Linked DNA regions of Homo sapiens: regions 1 and 2 are each reported to be linked to region 3. The links are microRNA targets in miRTarBase. Many come from high-throughput screens and were not tested one by one. Region 3 holds a microRNA gene; each other region holds the end of a gene's coding sequence.

Region 1 (4,104 bases), not on the chromosome of region 3:
TGTAACAAAAGACATACAAGACCACTGTGAAAAGTATCAGGCTGTATGAACACCCGCTGAAGGAGCCCTAACATTTGGAGAGACAGATACCATGTTCAGAGCTTGTAAAACCCAGTACTGCAAGTACGTCAATGATTCCCAAGTTGATCTACAGGTTCAACACAATCCCAAACAAAATCCCAACTCGACCGGCTAGTTCTAAAATGTATGAAACACAAAGGGTCAAAAACAGCCAAGACATCCTAACATAAGATGGAGGTACGCGCCCCAGAGTGTGTGGTATTGGCAGAGACAGACAAGGAGATGCAGAAACGGACACAGAGATCATCCTGACAAAGGAATCTTCAGCAGCCGGGACTGGGAAAACTGGGCTTATGTCTGCAACACAATGAAACTGGATCCTTAAGCTTCACAACAGGCGCAAAAATCAATTCTGGGTAGAATCTATATCTAAAATCCAAAATATACAAAACTATAAAATCCTTTGGAAGGTAACAGAGTATCTTTATGATCAAGGCAAAGTAAAGATTATTAAAAATTAGGATCCAAAATGCTTTAATCATAAAAGAAAATATTGATACATTGGGCCATATTAAAGTTTAAAATTTCTCTTAAAAGACACCATTGAAGTAAAAAGACAAGAAAAGCTATTTGCAAATGTAATTCACAAAGCACTACTACCCAGAATCATAAATAACACCTGCAAATAAATGAGACAGACCATCCAATAGAAAAGTAGGGAAAATACTTGAATAGGTACTTTACAAACAGGAAATCCCAATGAGCCGCAGACACATGAGAAGGTGCTGAACAAGGAGAAGCCAATGAAACCAGAAAGAGGTCTACCCCACACGTTCCACCACCCCGCGCCCTCCGCCACCCCGCGCCCTCCACCACCCCACTCCCTCCACTACCCCACACCCACCGGAGTGAAGGTGCTAACACTTCAGGCAATGGGTGCTGAAAACATGGACCGGCAGACGTGGTCATACACAACTAGCAGTCGGGCCTGCGGGTACCACCACTTTGGAACAGTTGGGAATTTCTAGTAAACCTGTTAAAAACATGGTTAAGCAGTTAATGGAAACGTGAACATAATGGGATATAAAACTAATGAAAAAAATCAAATGGAGTTTTTTTGTTTTTTTTTTGAGACGGAGTCTTGCTCTGTCGTCTAGGCTGGAGTGCAGTGCTGCAATCTTGGCTCACTGCAACCTCCGCCTCCCAGGTTCAAACGATTCTCCTGCCTCAGCCCCCCAAGAAGCTGGGACTACAGGTGCCCACCACCATGCCCAGCTAATTTTCATTTTTAGCAGAGATGGAGTTTCGCCATGTTGGCCAGGCTGGTCTCAAACTCCTGGCCTCAAGTGATCCTCCTGCCTCAGCCTCCCAAAGTGCTGGGATTACGGTGTGAGCCACCCCGCCTAGCCTCAAATGGAATTTTAGAACAAAAATATACCTAATTTCTGATATAAAAAATTCACTATACAAGCTTAACATCAAATTAGGCAAGTGGAAGAAAAGATTAGTAAGCCTCGCAACAGGACAATAAAACCACCTAAAGGAAAGGATGAGAGAACAAGGATGAAAAAGCATCACGTTTAGTGACCTGAGAGACAGTATCACAGTCTAACAGAAAGCTAACTAGAGTCCCAGATGGGGACAGGGAGGAAGAAGTGAGAGACGGGGTCAGACAAGAAATATGAGTAGTGGCTGCAACTTTGCCAAATCTGGTGAAAAATATGAACTCACAGGTCCAAGAAGCTCAATGAAACCCAAACGAGGTAAGCATCTATAAGCTTAAAGTGGATTAATATTAACATCTTCTAATACTCTTACATACATAAATTACGTGATGACAAATTAACCCCATCCCAACCCTACAGAAAATAAATTTGGTATGACACATTTTCCTGTTAGGACCACAACTGGACAGAGAGGTGACACAAGAGGGCAGCCTGAAGCCTAGCAAGTCCTCTTCGGGGAAGAGACAGCAGAGTCCCACCTCTGATTTCCCCAGGGATACAATCCACACGCACACACACACACACACAGAAGCACACACACACACAGCTAGCAGACACACACAGCTAGCACACAAGCACACACATAGCAAGTGCACATACACAACGCGTGCACACACAGCACACACACAGGGTGCGTGCGCGCACACACAGCGCACACACAAGCGTACACACAGCTAGCACACAGCAACTGCACACACACACAGCAAGCGCACAAGCACACACACACAGCAAGCATGCACACACAGCTAGCACACACACAGCAAGCGCACACACAGCTAGCATGCACACACAGCTAGTACACAGAGCAAGTGCACGCGCACAGAGCACACACAGCAAGCGCACACAGCTAGCACACACAGCACACACACACAGCTAGCACACACACAGCTAGCACACACACACTAGGCGCACACACAGCACACACACACAGCTAGCACACACACACAGCAAGCGCACACTAGCGCACACACAGCACACACACACAGCAAGGGCACACACACACACAGCAAGGGCACACACACACACAGAGCTAGCACAGAGCATTTTCTTCTTAGGCCTGCTCATTCTTCCCAAATCAGTTGAACGTCATTTAAAAAATGACCTTGTCTTACCAATCACAGCAAGTATGACATAAGATATGAAGTTTCCAAACTAAAAATCTAGTTTTGTGTCCTATTATGACATAATTTTCAGAACTACACTGCAAACAAGAGAGCGAGCCAGGGCTTGGGTAGATGTTTCCGCTGTGATATGTTAATATCATAAGACAATATTTTTAAGGTTTTTTCCCCCACATCTATAAGTGTCACTTGTGTTAAGTCTTTGAACTTAATTATTCCCACTCACCTATCATGGTGCACAGCTTGTTCTATAAAAAACTCAATGACAAACTCAGTTATAATTTGTATACAGCCACTGAAAAAGTTAACTTTTCAGAACAATGTATTTGTTTATTAAATAAAGATTGCTTGTTACACAGAAAATTATTTTCTTTAATTATCATACATAGCTCTCTTTCACATCAGGCAGTAGAACACTGCATTTACTTCATCTCAGGATACTGGATACAAGATTAATAGTCAGTTTGTCTCAAAATATGTCAATGTGTTCTGTCTGAAAACATGCAGAGGGCTTGGAGTAATCATATCATTTTACGAGGTGCTTTAGAAAACCAAGCTACAGGTCCTGAATACATTCCAAAAATCCTAAATAATTACCAACAGAAGAGAGAACTCTTGCCAGCCAGTACACTCAATAAAGAAGTACAAAGGTGCAGACAATGTAACTTTACCAGGAAGCTTAAGGGGTGGCCCAGCTTCTCGGCAGGAGTCAGCAGGCCTGGCAGCCTCCATGGCTGGCGCTGCTGTGTGGAAACAGGGCCATGGTCTTCTTGAGCTCCTGGTAGCTCCAGTGCATCTGCTCCACCTCGGCTCTGTGCTGCGCCCGCACCTGGCTCAGCTCCTGCAGCAGGTGTTCATTGGTGCTGACCAGGGAGCTGCAGAACAACAGGGAAGCGGCTGCTTGGCACTTCCGTCCTCTCCAGCGGTGTGGCCCTCACCTGCTGGGCCTGCCCACCTCCCTGCATGGGCACGAAGGTGCCCTGGCCCTGCACACAGACCTATCTCTGTGGCCCCATCACCTTCTGTGTCCCACTGGCTACCGCCCACCTGCCTCCTCCTTCCCAACCACTGTCCTGACCCCTGGGAGCAGCCTTGGAGGTGCGGCTCAGCACCTATGGAATGAATGAATGAGCTGAACAGGCTAATGAGTGACTGAATGGCGCCTTGGCTATTCCAGCTACGCATGGTTTTATGAGAAGATGATAAACTTCATGGCTAGCAAAACAATGTTCTAATTCTAGAAAATATACGGGGACTGAAATAGTTCTAATTCCCAGTCAAATATAATAATTTTGACATCATAATAGTGCAATAGAAGAGTCCTAGTCTTTAATGCTGTTGACCATTTTTATTTTAGAAGTAAAGTGCTATTACATTTTACCCACTTTGTCACCTCCAAATTGCCCTAATCACCCAGTCAGCGATGACCTGAGGACACTCAGGGCATTACAAGTATT
Region 2 (4,104 bases), not on the chromosome of region 3:
CACCCAGTCTGGAGTGGAGTGGCATAATCTTTCACTGCAGCCTCAAACTCCTGGAGTCCAGCAATCCTCCCACCTCAACCTCTTAAATAGCTGAGACTACAGATGTGTGCTACCATGCCCAGCTAATTTTTAAACAGTTTTCGTAAAGATGGGGTCTGGCTATCTTGCCCAGGCTTGCAATTTATAGAGCTCCAGACACCCTCATTGGTAGCTGCTTCTGATAAATTCCACACTATGGCCAGAAGATGGCAGCAAACCACCAGCTTCAGCCACTTACCTGTGGCCCAGGACACCGGACCAGGTTTCCAAAATCTGAGCTTCACATTCCTAGACCTCCAGAGGTTCTCTTCATGGCCACCTGGACAACTGGCAAACCATTCTGTTTCCTTACACGTGCACATATCATCCAGATAACTGAAACTCTTATCAATAAAACCCCAACATCACAACCAGGGCATAAATTCTCTTTCAAACATCATGGTGATATCCTTATCTTAGATTTTTGGTAAACATTTGGAATTGGATAAACCATCATCCTTAATTAAGACAGAGAACACTTTTTTTTTTTTTTTTTTGAGATGGAGTTTTGCTCGTCACCCAGGCTGGAGTGCAGTGGCGCGATCTCGACTCAGTGCAACCTCCGCCTCCCGGGTTCAAGCGATTCTCCTGTCTCAGCCTCCTGAGTAGCTGGGATGAGAGGCGCCCGCCACCACACCTGGCTAATTTTTTGTATTTTTAGAAGAGACGGGGTTTTGCCATGTTGGGCAGGCTGGTCTCAAACTCCTGACCTCAGATGATCCGCCTGCCTCGGCCTCCCAAAGTGTTGGGATTACAGGGGTGAGCCACTGCGCCTGGCCGACAGAACACTTTTAAAGAGAGATCCATAAAACATCGCCAGTCAGCTGACCTAGGTAGTTTGGGGTGTATTTGTTCTTCAATGTGGCATCCTTAGGGAACCTGGTGGAGGAAACACATGCATCAGCAGCCATTGGTGCCAAGCAGAACACAGCTAGGTTCCCTGTATCCCCCAGCACCACCCAGAGTCACCTGTTGGCACTGGCCAGTGGGATCCAGGTCCTGACCATTTGGAAGGTTTCAGGTGGCTTCTAAGAATTCCAACATTCATCAGCATAAATTCAGCTGTTATCTTAATTAGCACGATTATTTCAGTATCAGAAAATTAATAAAAATATAGAACTCCTGGGTCATGTAACCATTTGGACAATTATTCCAACTTTTAAGTTGGTGAAAACGCTTTTTAATAAAGCACATCACTCCATAAAACGCCTTAAGGAGCCCCGGGTGGTAATGAGAAACAAAGGCCCTTTGTATGCTAACAGGTTTGTGAAAAATGTAATAATGAGGGCACACTTTCGTTGCAGTCTTAATAAAAATTAGGAAAAGATTGATCAAACTGAATTACAAATGTTCTATGCTGAAATTGTGGTCATGACCCAAGTTAAGCGATCACAAATTCTTGCTGGTGTTGGAATCTCCATTCTTGGTCATGGTTTGGAGTGAAGACAGAATTTCCTATCTTCTTGTGCCAGGTTTTTCTTCTCTATGTCTGTTATTATAACAATGTTCTGTGGCGGCTGAGCCATGACTCAGTGAGTGACTCAAAGCACGTTCAGTACTCACCCCTCCCGCGGGCACGTGCCCAGGCTTGCAGGCACATGGCCCCCCTCTCCCGGGAGCCTTCACCTACCCCTAAAACCTGCAGGGGCCTGAACCTGGAACAGAGAGGCCTCTGGAACAGAGGCATGGCTCTGTCGAGGTCTGTGGTGCTGACCAAGGCTGCTTCCCTCTGTGTCTGCTTGAAGTCCACCCTCAAGTGGATTTCCCATCCACCCTGCTCCCAGAGATGGTCAAGATGGAGACCCATTCCATGGTCTCCAACGGGAAAAGTCAGGACCATTCTGGGTGGCTATGAAAACCTGGCCAGAGCATCCAAGCTCACATGCTCCCAAATGATGGCACCTGGCTGCTGACCTGACTGTGGTCCCCACATCCGGCAGAAATGGGAAAGAAGGGACAATGGAGCCACAGCGAAGAATAGCAGCTATGACTACCCCCGGCACAGACAAGACCAACATGGCTCCTTAGGGACAAGGACTTTGTGGATTGTAGGGGCAACCCTACAGTGGATGGCTTTATTTAGGGCCAAAAAAAGGCAGGGGATAGGAGTCCTCCTGGAATTCTATCAGTCTGTCTCTCTCTAAACACTCAATGAAGACCTCGAGGGGAGGTTGTGGTCTCTGTGCCAGACGAGAGGAAATGCTAAGGGTCACTGGGTTATGGAGGATAAGCAGAGGGCCAAAGGGATGATCCCTCTGAAGGCCTCAAGGCTGAAGGGCCTTCCTCTCATCTGCCAGGCAGAGCTGCCACCCTATCTCTTCTGTTCCATGGGGGGCTGGCCTTCTGCTAAGGCCGAGGGTGGTCTCAAGTCAAGAGGAGTATCAACCCCCTGCCCTACAGACCCAACTAGCAACATGAGACCAGATAAGACAGTCTCCAAGCTCACCTCCAGGTACAAATCAGGAAGAACCATATAAGGCGGCCTTCATGGAGGCAGACAGTTTAGGAGCCGGCCCTAGGATGCCCTGATTTGGAAGGCAACACAGAAACCCTAAGTCCAGGAACAGGACCATGGAAAATGGCCCTCGAGACCCCCTCTGCCTAGAGTTGCCTGTAATTATGTCATCCTTTCCTAGTCCCTTTCAAGATAAATAGAACATGAGTGGAGAAGTGAGAATACGCAAACTGCAGATAAAGCAGGCCCCCTTGAAGAGACTGTAGACCCCTCTATCTCGGTCACCCGCCCTGCCCCAGATGGGGTTCTTCCTTCACGGAAGCTTTGACCCCACCAGACCCTGCCCAGGCGTCAAGGAGAGCCTCAGCCAGCCCTGCAGTCTGGGATATGATGGGGAACCATGAGACTCCCCAAGAGTATAGATACCACCTCCCCCTGGTACCTGCTGGGCATAGCTGCCGTCCTCCTAGTAGCCAGGGGCTAGGCCGGGCTCACACATCAGACTCAGTGCAGTGTGTTATCCTTTAATGAAAAGCTGGGTCAATGGAGTCACCACTCTCCCCAAGACCCCCCTGCAGCAGATAGCCCTCACCATGGCTACCTATGAGGCAGGGCAGCCCTGTGGCAGCCAGCCCTGCTGAGGGGTCAGTTTGTAGTGGCCTAGGAGAGGCGTTCAACTCTTAGACCTAGGATGTGGCAGCAGCAACAAGGCCAGAGGCAGCTCAACTGAGGTCAGGGATGGTGGAGGAGGCAGACAGGAAGCATGGGGCTCTCCTCCTTCCTCTCCGAATCCCAGTGTGGCCAAGGCCAGTGTTCAGGAACAGTACAGTCTCCCCAGGGGCCTGGAGTCTCTTCCAGCCACTCTCTGGAAGCCCTTAGTCCCCAACTCCCTGCAGACCGGTGTCACAGGGTCGCTGGACTCGGGGAGCAGGCTGGGTACTACCCCATGAGCCTTGAGGCCCCGGGTCTAGGAGGTGGATCCAGCAGGGCCGAGGCCAGAGCCACCAGGAGACTGGGAGTCACCTTCCACTAACTCTGCTTGTCAGTCACTACAGGCACCTAAGAAGGTGGCCTCTCCTCCGAGCTTCCAGGGCTGCCCAGGCCAGGCTGAAGCAACAGCAGGCCGTGGCTCCTGGGTTCCTATAGATCTGTGACCTTGTTTTCCACAGCAGCTGCAATCTGCTGGAGCCGATAGCCCAGCTGCATCTTCTGGGCCGTGCCATCCTCCTCCAGGGCAGTGATGATCTGAAACAGAGACCAATGCCATCAGGGGAGACTTCTTTGGCCAACGTGTTTGCTGCAAAATTCAACAGCCCTCCTAAGACGCTGTGGCATGAGTGGGGTAGGAGGCCAAGAAACCCAGCCGGTCACTTCACGTACTTTCTGGGACCTCAGGGCCTCGCTGGCGGGAGGGGTAATAACATCAAAGTCACCGCGGGGTTCCAGGATGAATAAGGTAGGAAATGAAGGACCTGACTCAGTAGCGAGCTCCTCAGAAGCCCTGCTGCAGCCATCCTGGCTAACCCACCCGCCAGCCAACAGTATTTCCCAAGTTCCTGTCTGCCCGGTGC
Region 3 (4,104 bases):
GCAACCTAACTCCCTCATTTTACCCAAGGGACTTTCAGGTTCAGAGACCTAGGCGCCTTTTACGAAGATTTTACTGAACTGCTAGGCTGGGGTGCTTACCAAGCTACTGTAATCTAAAAGTCTTAAAAATATAAACCGAGAGTAATTTCTTCCCACTGTGAAGAATGATCATGAGACCTAAATGAGTACGGCTGGAAACAAAACTGCACATACTTCCTGCCTGGCCAAGGAACTTGCTCACCATGGTTGGCTGCTGTCCCTGAGAGAGGAATCTCCTACCCCCAGAGAGGCAATAAAACTGAAGCTTCAGGACCCCTTCCAAGGCCCTAGACCTAATTATATATTTTTGATTTTGCATTCTTTTGCTCAAAAAGCTACTTCCTCCAATTTTATCAGCTTCAGGACCAGAAATCCTGAACTTTGCCCTGCCTGTCCTACCTCATAAATCCAAATGTCTGATGTTCCAATATGCTCTTGCTCAAAAGAGAACAGATAAGGGTGAGGATGACTCTGCCGGGACCAGGCTTGGGAAAACAGTACGGGGCTGGTAAGAAAGTTGGGTTGGGTATAATTTTGAAGGCTGGCCCACAAGATGTCTCAAACTCCTACCTTGTTTCTACCCCAGGAGCTTGTTGGCCAGACAAAGCCTGTCTCTCAGATTTACAGACCCAGGATTTTAGAGCTGGCAAAGGTCTCATTTTGTCATCCTCCCTAATTTTGCAGGCATTTAGAATGGCTTAAGCATCTTGGGCTACTGAATTCCCCTCCCTGGGAAGTGAGGTGACATTGTTGGCTAATTCTTTAAGCAGGTAGAGTATTTGTCTCACTTGTTAGATGTGATCTTCTTGGTGTGTCCTCGCATGGGTGGAAACCAGTAAATGAGGCCTACCCAGCTAAGCACTTCAATAAAACACAAACGACTGCAATTCTACACACTGTCACTTAGTGTCCATTCTGAGCAAAACTTCTGAGTTACTCTCTGAGGAAAGATGAAACTGCACAGGACAGTGCCTGTGGACAGTATTTTAAGCTTGTCCCTCATTTCATAGTAATAGCTACAATTTATTTACCACCTACTATGGACCCAGCATTTTATCAACAATTTCATTTGTATTTATTTATTTATTTATTTATTTATTTATTTAGAGATAGAGTCTTGCTCAGGTTACCCAGGCTGGAGAGCAATGGTGTGATCTTGGCTCACTGCAACCTCTGCATCCCTGGTTCAAGATAGTCTCCTGTCTCAGCCTCTCAAGTAGCTGGGATTATAGTCACCTGCCACCACGCCCGGCTAATTTTTGTATTTTTAGTAGAGACGGGTTTCACCATGTTGGCCAGGCTGGTCTTGAACTCCTGACCTCAAGTGATTCACCCACCTCAGCCTCCCAAAGTGCTTGGATTACAATCATGAGCAACCATGCCCTGCCATAGGTATTATCATTCTCCTTTCGTTGATGTGGAAACCAAGGCTCAGAGGTTATGTGACTTGTCCCGGGTACACATCTTCAGCATCCCTCTGCTTGTTTGGGGCATGTGGAGGCTAAAGTTTAGGGAGTGTCAGGCCAGAAGAGGAAGGCAGAAAGACAATGGCCTTGCCAAACCTCCTTTCTCCCTTTCACACAGGCCTGTGTTTAAGTCCTAGTTCTAACACATACTAGTTATGTGTGCCCTTGAGAAAGCTGCTGTTAATCTTGGTTTCCTTATTTATAAATTGAAGAAAATAACCCACTTCATAAAGCAATTGAGAAGATGAAATGATAGAATGTGAGCAGAGCTCCTTCACAGCACATTCAGGTACAAAATAGCTCATTTTGGTATAAACTGCTCACCCCCTAGCCCTGAATGCCCAATTTCTCATTTTCTTTATGTCTTTACTAAATTGTCTCCATCTTACTGAAACCTTCCCTGGCCACCCTATCTAAAAGGCAAACCCCATATAATCTCTTCACATCCCCTTTCTGCCTTATTTTATTACCAATTAATATATGACAAATTGTATTTATTTTGTCTTGTCCTGTCTCCACCCACAAGAAGGTAAATTTTTCTTAGGCCAGTAGGCATTGTCTGCGTTAGGAGGATGATACAGAAATCCTAACGCAGACAATGCCTACTGGCCTCAAAAAAATTTACCTTCTTGTAGGTGGAGACAGACAAGACAAAATAAGTACAATTTGTCATATATTAATTGGTAATAAAATGTATATTGGTCAAATGAATGAAAACAAACAACAAAAACAACAAAAAGAAGTTGGGAACCTAAAGACCTATGTTTGAATTTGGTTTTTTTCCTTACTATTTGACTCTGGGTCCATTACTTAAAATGTCTGGTCCTTAGCTTCCTCATTTGTAAAATAGGAAGAAAAATGGTATCTATTATTAAGACAGCTGGGATGACTAAATGACATAATTTATAAACCCTCTGGCATATAGCGAGTGCTCAATAAATGTTTGCCATTATTATTATTTGTAATAATCTGACCGATTGTTAAAACTGTCTTTCTGTGCAGCTCTGAGTTTTTAGGATATGGGAAGAGGCTAAAAGTCACCAGTGCCCTTGGCATTTTCGGCCCAGTTGTCCTCCTTGTTAACTGATTACCAGTTGAATGGGTGTGAAAGTGCTCAGTGTTCCCACCTCCAAGCTGCTCAGAGGTCAGCATTGCCATTCATTGAGAAATAACAGGCTGTGAGAGCTCAAATGACTTACTTATGGTCCCTCAACTTAAAAACCAGGGCACGCAGGAACCAAGCCCAGCCAGTCTTGGGCTTCCTAATACTGTAATTTCTCTCTACAGTGTGGGGTAGTTAAGAGCCTGTGACTTCAGACCTGTGGTCAACGGGGCCTTTCACCGGCCATCTCCCGCAGAGTACTTTTTCACAATCAGTTTTCTCGCAAGCAAAACGTGGAAAATAAGATCCACACCTCACAAGTTTGTGGCCAGGGTCACAGGTGAAAACAGCTCTTCGGAAACTCTAAAGCGCCGGATAAATAAGCGCTGCAACAGGCAACCACACGCGAACCCCTTTCAGCTGCCAGTCCCGGGACTCGCTCCTGTCTCCTCCCCTCTCCAAGACCGCGGAGTAGGAAGGAGGATTAACCCCTAGGGGAGGAGTTCCGCCCCCCAGCCCCCGCCCCGCCGCCCACGCCTCTCTCTGCACCTACACTTGCGCTCCCCAAGTCTCTCTCGTGCGCAGAGCCCAGGCTGCGCTTCCCTGGTCAGGCACGGCACGTCTGGCCGGCCGCCAGGATGCAGGCCCCGCACAAGGAGCACCTGTACAAGTTGCTGGTGATTGGCGACCTGGGCGTGGGGAAGACCAGTATCATCAAGCGCTACGTGCACCAGAACTTCTCTTCGCACTACCGGGCCACAATCGGCGTGGACTTCGCGCTCAAGGTGCTCCACTGGGACCCGGAGACTGTGGTGCGCCTGCAGCTCTGGGATATCGCAGGTGAGCGCGGGGGGAGGGGGTCAGGGGGATAGAGCGCCTCGCGGCCGGTTTCCAGTCTCGAGGCAGCGGCTTGCGGCCAAGCGTGAGATTAAAATCACTAGGTCGCGAGGCAGTTTTTCCTGGTGGGCTGGAAACTTAGTTTCAAAGAAAAGAAAAACGTCTGAAACTTCAAGTGCATTCCCTGGCGCTTTTGGGCTATTGCTTTAGCTCCTTCCCGCACAGTCCCCTGGGATCTCTCTGCCCAGAGCAGGCCTCCCCAGGGAACCAGAGGAAGATTGTCTGCAATTGCATTCTGTTCTCCACTCCAGCTCGTTTTCTGGGCGCGGGCAGTTCTGCCAATGACGCAGCCCAGTGTCACGCACGTCCTTCCGTGCAGGGGCGGACCGAGGGGAAGCCCCTAGGCTGGTTCACAGAGGAAACCGGGATAGTTCCAGGCTAGCTGGAGTTTGCCCATTCCTGTCTTCAGTGGCTCACTTTATTTCAAATTTTGTCACCTTTCTCTCTGCCCTTAAGACAAAGGAGTTTGAGGGTTTTTGTTTTGTTTTTTTTTTTTTTTTTTTTTGCTTTTTGCTTACAGTAAGCCAAGTACTTTTGTGTGTATATGTCAGGGGCAAAGTATTCTTTCTCCCTCTCTTTCTGTATTTCTATCTCTCTGGC

The links. Region 3 holds the annotated microRNA hsa-miR-3166 (CGCAGACAAUGCCUACUGGCCUA, at 2,047-2,069, opposite strand). A microRNA usually pairs through its seed, bases 2 to 8, with sites in the 3' UTR of a target mRNA and lowers its output. Matches are read on the target gene's strand: a 7mer-m8 pairs with bases 2 to 8, a 7mer-A1 pairs with bases 2 to 7 and ends in A, and an 8mer does both.
Region 1: the mRNA of CEP72 is a reported target of hsa-miR-3166. Seed matches in the 3' UTR shown: 8mer at 3,299-3,306.
Region 2: the mRNA of PLXNB1 is a reported target of hsa-miR-3166. Seed matches in the 3' UTR shown: 7mer-A1 at 3,425-3,431 and 7mer-m8 at 3,284-3,290.

The regions. Positions count from the first base shown.
Region 1 is chr5:652,406-656,509 of GRCh38, reverse strand. CEP72 (centrosomal protein 72) reads right to left here. Exons shown (of 12, transcript NM_018140.4): 12 at 2,957-3,522. The coding sequence ends at 3,357. Among named protein-coding and RNA genes, the nearest start is that of TPPP, 39 kb to the left of the region's middle.
Region 2 is chr3:48,400,813-48,404,916 of GRCh38, forward strand. PLXNB1 (plexin B1) reads right to left here. Exons shown (of 38, transcript NM_001130082.3): 38 at 3,042-3,778. The coding sequence ends at 3,674. Among named protein-coding and RNA genes, the nearest start is that of PLXNB1, 27 kb to the right of the region's middle.
Region 3 is chr11:88,174,526-88,178,629 of GRCh38, reverse strand. MIR3166 (microRNA 3166) reads right to left here and starts at 2,128; the gene lies at 2,037-2,128. RAB38 (RAB38, member RAS oncogene family) reads left to right here and starts at 3,187. Exons shown (of 3, transcript NM_022337.3): 1 at 3,187-3,447. The coding sequence starts at 3,246.